2 linked regions of the Homo sapiens genome follow. The protein of the gene in region 1 interacts with the protein of each later gene in a pairwise test. Each region holds a gene or a part of one and is shown on either strand. Other genes may lie near its edges.

What was found.
Region 2: the proteins of PHF24 (region 1) and GNAI3 interact in binary tests that used the Homo sapiens proteins (3 or more experiments, as listed by UniProt).

Annotation. Positions count from the first base shown.
Region 1 is NC_000009.12:34,975,224-34,979,043, reverse strand, and holds part of PHF24 (PHD finger protein 24), read right to left. Parts: intron 2,893-3,820; coding exon 2,814-2,892; intron 2,510-2,813; coding exon 2,304-2,509; intron 1,962-2,303; coding exon 1,801-1,961; intron 1,502-1,800; coding exon of another isoform or gene 1,499-1,501; coding exon 1,403-1,498; intron 1,030-1,402; coding exon 933-1,029; 3' UTR 1-932.
Region 2 is NC_000001.11:109,551,337-109,555,156, forward strand, and holds part of GNAI3 (guanine nucleotide-binding protein G(i) subunit alpha-3), read left to right. Parts: intron 1-3,820. UniProt on the Homo sapiens protein: Heterotrimeric guanine nucleotide-binding proteins (G proteins) function as transducers downstream of G protein-coupled receptors (GPCRs) in numerous signaling cascades.

The sequences.
Region 1 (3,820 bases):
GTGGTCGGTGACTTGGGTGAAGCATCTAACACAGAGGGCTGTGGCTCCTGCCAGTGTGTTTGCTCCATTCAGGCCCCCTTGGCCCTAGGCCATGAGCTACCATCTGAAAAATGGGGCCAAGAAGGCTCACCTTGATTTTTGACTACCCTGCTAAAGACTTTTGGACTCAGGTGACCTGACTGAGAGGTTCCTAGAATCCCGAGTCCCTGGGAAGGGCTGCCTCCCCCTCTTCCAGTCAGGATTCTCCAGGCTAGTTGCCTTTTCTGTCACCAGGAATTGGAATTTAAATAAATAAAGGGCTGAATTTCAGTGGTGATGTTTAACTCTTTTCCCAACTCAGTACAGCCGAGGTACATAATGCACACCTACTAGTAACAGCAGCTGACTGCAGAAGGGATTTTTGGTGGAGAAAGCGGGGCCCATTAGGATCTCCAGGAGCTCTAGGCAGGCATGCGAGTCTGACATGCCCCCTTCCTAAGAATCACTTGGCCAGAGACTTATCTATTGGAAATTAGAACTGGCCTGCCTATAGAAGGGGTGAGTAGAGACCCCCTCCTCTATACCAGGGGCTTCACAAAGGGACTTTGGTCCTTTCTCAACCAAAAAGAACCAGGCTTCTGAAGGCATGGACAGCTGGGCAGCATGTGCACATGTATATAAGTGTGGTGGCAGGTCCCGTCTATGATGTGGGGCAGGGGCGGTCCAGGAGAGGATGCTGCCACAGCTCCCAGGGCTTCTCCTTGTGGCAATGCATTCACTGCCTCTATTGTGAGGGGAATGGTGATTTCAGTGCCTTAAAGCTTAGTGACAAGTTAAGACGCTGGCAGTGTCCCAACCCCATGAGTCTCTGTGCCAGAGGTTGGTGGGGGAAGGGAGAAAGGAAAGGAGGGAGAGGATGTCACTGTCCTCAAACCGAGCTTCTCTGCTCCATGCTATCCTGGGGGCTTCAGGTGAATGGCTGCGCTGTTGGGGCGAGCAGCCAGGATGTAGAGGACATTCTCTTGCAGGAAGGTAGGCCAGTCCACAAATCTGGAGTGGAAGCAAAGAACAGAGTCGTGAGGCTGGTTTGAAGACACGTGAGCCCTGATCCCAGGGGCAGCATGGCTTGAGGAGGCTGGTTTGAAGACGCGTGAGCCCTGATCCCAGGGGCAGCATGGCTTGAGCTACACAAAACTCAGGGAAGCTTGGCTCATGCCTGACCTGGCTATGGCTGGCTGTGCTACCAGGCCAACAGACCAGCTGGCTGGTCCTATAGACTTGGGTCAAATGTGCACTCTTGGAGCCTGGTTTCTTGGGTGGGCGCTTGCTGTTTTGGAGTGGGAGTGGGTAATGCCCTCTCTTACTTGTGTGTTTTGTGGGGGTTCAGAGGGTACAAATGGCCAGGTGAGGAGGTCCTACTCACCTGGACTCCTGCTCTGTGGGCAGCAGGGTCTTGTCCTGACTCTTGCTGCTGCTGCTGGCTGGGCTGCTATCTGCGATGGGACCCACATGGCTGATGCTGCTGGGCATGAGGACACGTGGTTAGGAGTGGGATAGTGAAATGCCTGCCCCCTCCCAAACTCTGGTAAGCCCAAGGCTCTGGACATGCTCATCCAGGCTCTTCTGACATGTGGCAACACCGAGTTGAAGGCAGAGGCTGTCCTATGCCCTGGCCCGTAGGCATCACCATCCTCTACCTAATGCACAGGAGGCTCCTCTCTCGGCTGTTGGCAGGGGGAGCAGGGAGGTATGGAAGGGCCACTGGCATGGAAAAGGGAGGAGGAGAGGCTGAGTGGGGACCAGGACTGGTAAGGAGCAGACCTGACACTGCAGGAAGGAGCCTCTGGGAACCGTTTGCAAAACCAAGAGTGCTGGGCCCGGCGGCACTCTGCCTCACTGACGGTGCTCCCACTGCCCCGAGCCAGGAAGGCGGCTCGGGCTCGCTCCCGCTCCTTCACTGTCAGAAGCCTCAACAGAGAGTTCTGGGGAAGAAGAGACAAGATCTTAGAGGTGAAGATATCTTGTAAACTGCCAAGCCATAGAGAATCCTATCTCCATTACCACCTTTGCAACCTCCCTTAGAAGCTGCCCAGAGCCCTTCTGGAGGCATCAGCACTTCCAGTGCGGCCCAGGGCAGATCAGTCTTCCTCACGCAGTTTCCTCAGCCTGGGCACCAGATCATCTGTCACTGGATGGAACCTGAGCCCATTCCTGATACTTGTCCCTGCTTGAGCAGGACCCAGTGCTCCCCCAATCTGCCCAGCGTGCCTCCCAGGCCCTTGTCACCCAGTATCCCAGGAACATTTGCCCCAACTGGCCCTCACCTGGGGACGCAACTGCTGCAGAAGCAGGAGGGACTCATGGGACAAGAAGTCAGGCCACTCTATGTGGCCTCGATGTTCAGGGTCCAGGGCAGCAAACTGGCGGGCCGCCTGCTCTTCTTGCTCCTCACTCAGGGCCCTGTCACGGTCCCCCCGCTTGGCTGCTTGGTGGCGGTAACGCAGAAAGTCCTCCAGTGTCAGGGAGCAATCTGTGGGAGGCACCCCGTGCTAGCCATGCCCATCCTTCCTCAGCCTCAGGGCACCTCCATCACCTCCAGGGCACCCTCGGGGCCCCCAAACCCACAGCTCTTGCTAAGTCTCTGCCTCCCATGGCCAGGGTCACCCAGGCTGTGACAGGGATAGGTGACTCTGCTGGCCAACAACTCAGGAACAAGGACTCATTTACCCTCTACCCACTAAATATGGAACACTCCTTTCATGGTTCATTCTAGAAAGCCTGAAGGAGAAATCTGCCCGGCCCCTCTCCATCCATGCAGCACCACCCAACCTTACCAGGGATGACTTTACACCGCTGAAAGGTCTCCGTGAGGCTATACATTTCCTCCTCAGTAAGCAGCAAGTTGATGTTGTCCTGAAAATAAGGAAGAGCTGAGTCGGTGGCCATACAGGCCAGTAAGAAAGGCCAGGGTCAAGGGGGCTAGAAATAGAATTTCAACTGGAAAGCAGTTCCAAGATCATCTAATCCCAGCCTCCTATTCACAATCAATGAGATTGAGGCCCCAGAGAGGAGAAAGGACTTGGCCAGAGTTGTCTTTACTCTGGGGCAGAATCTTCCCCAAGAACCCAGATATCCTGACTCCAGCACTGAGTCCCTTTACTAAAACAGTGGTTTTCTCCTCTGAGCTAACCTAGGGATTTCTTGGAAGTGCCTTAGGAAGCTGCTGCAGGGAATAAGGGGGCTAGTGAGTAGGCAGGTTGTGAATCCCTATCTCCATCAAGCAGAGCGGCTCCATCTCCATCCCTTTTATCTACTTGGCTTCTGTGTTAGGCTGTGCTAAAAATGTATTTTAGTTAAAAAAAAAAAAAGTTTAATCCTAGCTCTGCTCCAAGTGGGTTGTATCACTTTAAATAACCCCAGAATGGTTTTAAAAGATGCCATTATTACAAGGCTCCTAAAGCCAAATGAGTTTTTTTGTAGTGCCACAGAAGTTTTAATTCCAAAGGAGCACCAATATCTTATTGTGTTGACGTTACCATACAGTCTTTAAACTATCAAAGATCCTTTCTAGTACAAGGTCATTTTCTTCCTCTGAGATACCCGCAAAGTACAAGAGCAGATATTTCATGAGTATTCATACGTGGATTTCATAAAGAACTCAAACCATTCTTTTTCTTCCATAACACTTTTTAAAAACTAATATATAATAGTTGTATTTTTCTTTCAAACCATACTTTCAATAAACACCTACTGAGCACCTAGTAAACACTGGGCGCCACAGTGGTGTGTAACACTGTGAGATGTTCAGTGTGGCTGAGGTTTGGAGTACATGTGAGTGTGT
Region 2 (3,820 bases), on another chromosome or scaffold:
TATACAGTTTTCTTTTTCCTGGATAATGTCTCCTTTGCTGTAGATGCAAGTCATTTTTACTTTATCACTATGGAACTTAGTTTAAGTTGAGATCTATCTACTTACCCTGTGTCTCCTGACACATGATATATTTTCTTTCTTATGGGGGTGTAGTTTAACATGGTGATTAATAGCATGGGTCCTGAAGTCAGACTGCTTTAAATCCTAATTCCCATTTACTAGTTATAGCCTTGGGAAAGTTAATTTCTCTTGGCCTCAGTTTTCTTATCTTTAAAATGGAGAAAATAGAGCTACTCCTAGGATTGCTGTGAGGATTAAATATGGTAATAATGTAAAGCAGAACACAGCTTGGCACATAGTACTAGCTCCATGAAGATTAGCTATTCTTATTAAGTCAAAATGAATGTTACAGATTGTAGGTATTATGGAAATTATACCAAATTAAGCAGCTAGTGTGGGCCAGATTATTTACAGACACTTCAGTATTGTAATTCTTCCTTTGATAACCTTTGGTTTGAATTTCATTTAGATGTTCTTGGAAAGGGCTGGGCGTGGTGGCTCCTGGCTGTAATCCCATCACTTTGGGAGGCCGAGGCTGGTGGATCACCTGAGGTCAGGAGTTCGAGACCAGCCTGGCCAACATGGCGAAACCCCATCTCTACTAAAAGTACAAAAATTAGCCGGGCGTGGTGGTGTGCACCTGTAGTCCCAGCTACTTGGGAGGCTGAGGCAGGAGAATCGCTTGAACCCGGGAGGTGGAGGTTGCAGTGAGCAGAGATGACGCCACTGCACTCTAGCCTGGGTGACAAAGTGAGACTCTTTGTCTCAAAAAAAAAAAAAATAAAGTGTTCTTGGGAAGATCTTGGTATATCAAATTAGTGTTTAATTATGACATTCTATTGAAAAAATACCATGCAAAGCTTCCCAACCAATGTTCCAGTGCTTAGGATGGCATATAGGTGTGCTGTTTACAAATTTTTTATAGCATTGAAATTTTAAATCATTTTTATAAGTTCAAACTTTTACAACAGTTGAAATTACATTTGAACATCTTTGGTATGATTTCCTCTTGTATAATTCATGAATTTGGTAATTTGGTTATTTACTATTTAAACAATTAGAGATGGGGGTCTCATTATGTTGCCCAGGCTGGTCTCAAATGCTTGGCCTCATGTGATTCTCCCATCTCAGCCTCCCAAAGTGCTGGGATTACCAGTGTGAGCCACTGTGCCTACCCTACCATGAATTTGGTAATTTGAAAAAATTTTATTTGGTATAAATACTAAATTTATACCAATTTAATATTTAATATCATTTGTAATACTTTGTATTTTTTTCATGCCATAATTTCATAATAAGAAATTTTGTGTGTGCGGGTTTTGTTTTTGTTTTTTTTTGACCCCAGGGCAAGCAAGAAAATTTTTTTTCACCAAGCTCTTTCAGCTCACCCCAATGAGCCTTACAAATATTTTTAATGTGTGCCATCATGTGACAAAGGTTGGGAAGCACTGGTATAATGGATAAGAGCACTGCTTTTGGATTCACACAAAACTGAATTTAAGTTCTACCTCCACTTATTAGCTCTGAGACCCAGAGCAAGTAACTTAACCATAAGAATAATAATTTTTACATATGTAAAGCAGAGATGATGTTTCATAATATGAAATGAGATAATGCATGTAAAATGCTTCACATTAGTGCCTAGCAAATAAAAAATAGTAAGTGGTCACTTCTATTGATGATGATGATCGTGAGAATTACCATTTTAGCTACTTTTTTCAGAGGTTTTTCAGACAGCTGTTTTATTATTTTTCATATTAATATACTATTTTCAAAGATCTTCAAAGAATTTTAATATCCTTTTGTGGTGAAAGGAATTAAATGTTAGTCCTTTTTTTTTACTCATCACTGTACTAATGAAGATACTTAGTTTTGTAAATTATTGAATTATCTGCTCTCTGTATTTCTGTTTCTTGATAGTTTCCTTTAGCAGGTTCTGAGAAAACATAAAAAAAAACTTTGTTCTTTGGGATTTGCTGGTGGTAGTATGGCAAAAAGCCAGTTGCATGCAGAGAACTGGAATCATCTAATTTACTTAAACTCTATATTATACAGTTAATTATATTTAAATTGCTGCATATTATTGGCTGAATATGCTTATTATTGAGAATAAGACTGCCCTTTGGTAAACATGCCATTACATTATATCCTCCTATGGGATTATACCCTTTATTATGTTTGCCATTTGCTTGGGATAAGGTTCATGGCCAGTTACATTTCATGTGAGGATGCATCTGTGTTTCGGGGAAAAAAAGCTTTGTGTTTTATAAGCATGTATCATTCTTTGTGTCTTTTATTTAAATGCATTAGTCACTTTTTTAACATTTCAATAGGTTTTTGGGGAACAGGTTATGTTTGGTTACGTGAATAAGTTTAGTGGCAATTTCTGAGATTTTGGTGCACCCATCACCTGAGCAGTCTACACTGTACCCAATGTATAGTCCTTTATCCCTCACCACCTTCCCACCCTTTCCCCCGAGTCCCCAAAGTCCGTTGTATCATTCTTAGGCCTTTGCATCCTCATAGCTTAGCATCCACTTACAAGTGAGAACGTACGATGTTTGGTTTTCCATTCCTGAGTTACTTCACTTAGAGTAATCGTCTCCAGTTCCATCCAGGTTGCTGCAGATGCCATTATTTCATTCCTTTTTATGGCTGAGTAGTGTTCCATGGGTGTAGAGGGGTGTGTGTGTGTGTGTGTGTGTATATCACATTTTCTTTATCCACTCGTTGATTGATGGGCATTTGGGCTGGTTCCATATTTTTGCCATTGTGAATTGTGCTGCTATAAACATGCGTATGCAAGTATCTTTTTTGTATAATGGCTTCTTTCCTCAGGGTAGATACTCAGGAGTGAGATTGGTGCATCAAATGGTAGATATACTTTTAGTTCTTTAAGGAACCTACACACTGTTTCCCATAGTGGTTGTACTAGTTTACATTCCCACCAACAGCGTGAAGGTGTTCCCTTTTCATCACATCCACACCAACATCTATTTTTTTTTTATTATGGCCATTATTGCAGGAGTAAGGTGGTATCACATTGTAGTTTTGATTTGTAGTTCCTGATAATTAGTGATGTTGAGCATGTTTTCGTAAGTTTGCTGGCCATTTGTATATCTTGTGAGAATTGTCTATTCAAGTCCTTAGCCCACTTTTTGATGGGATTGTTTTTTTCGTGCTGATTTGATTTCCTTGTAGATTCTGGATATTAGTCCTTTGTCAGATGTATAGATTGTGAAGATTTTCTCCCACTCTGGGTTGTCTGTACTCTGCTGATTTCTTTTGTTGCTCAGAAGCTTTTTAGTTTAGTTGAGTCCCATTTATTTATTTTTATTTTTGTCTTTGCATTTGCTTTTGGGTTCTTGGTTGTGAAGTCTTTGCCTAAGCCAATGGCTAGAAGGGTTTTTCCAATGTTATCTTCTAGAATTTTTATGGTTTTGGGTCTTAGATTTAAGTCAGTAGCCCTATACACCAACAGCAACCAAGCTGAGAATCAAATCAAGAACTCAACCTTTTACAGTAGCTGCAAACAAAAAACAAACAAACAAACAATACTTAGGAATATACTTGACCAAGAAGGTGAAACACCTCTACAAGGAAAACTACAAAACACGGCTGACAGAAATCATAGATGATACAAACAAATGGAAACACGTCCCATGCTCATGGATGGGTAGAATCAATATTGTGAAAATGACCATACTGCCAAAAGCATATCTACAAATTCAATGCAATTCCCATTAAAGTACCACCATCA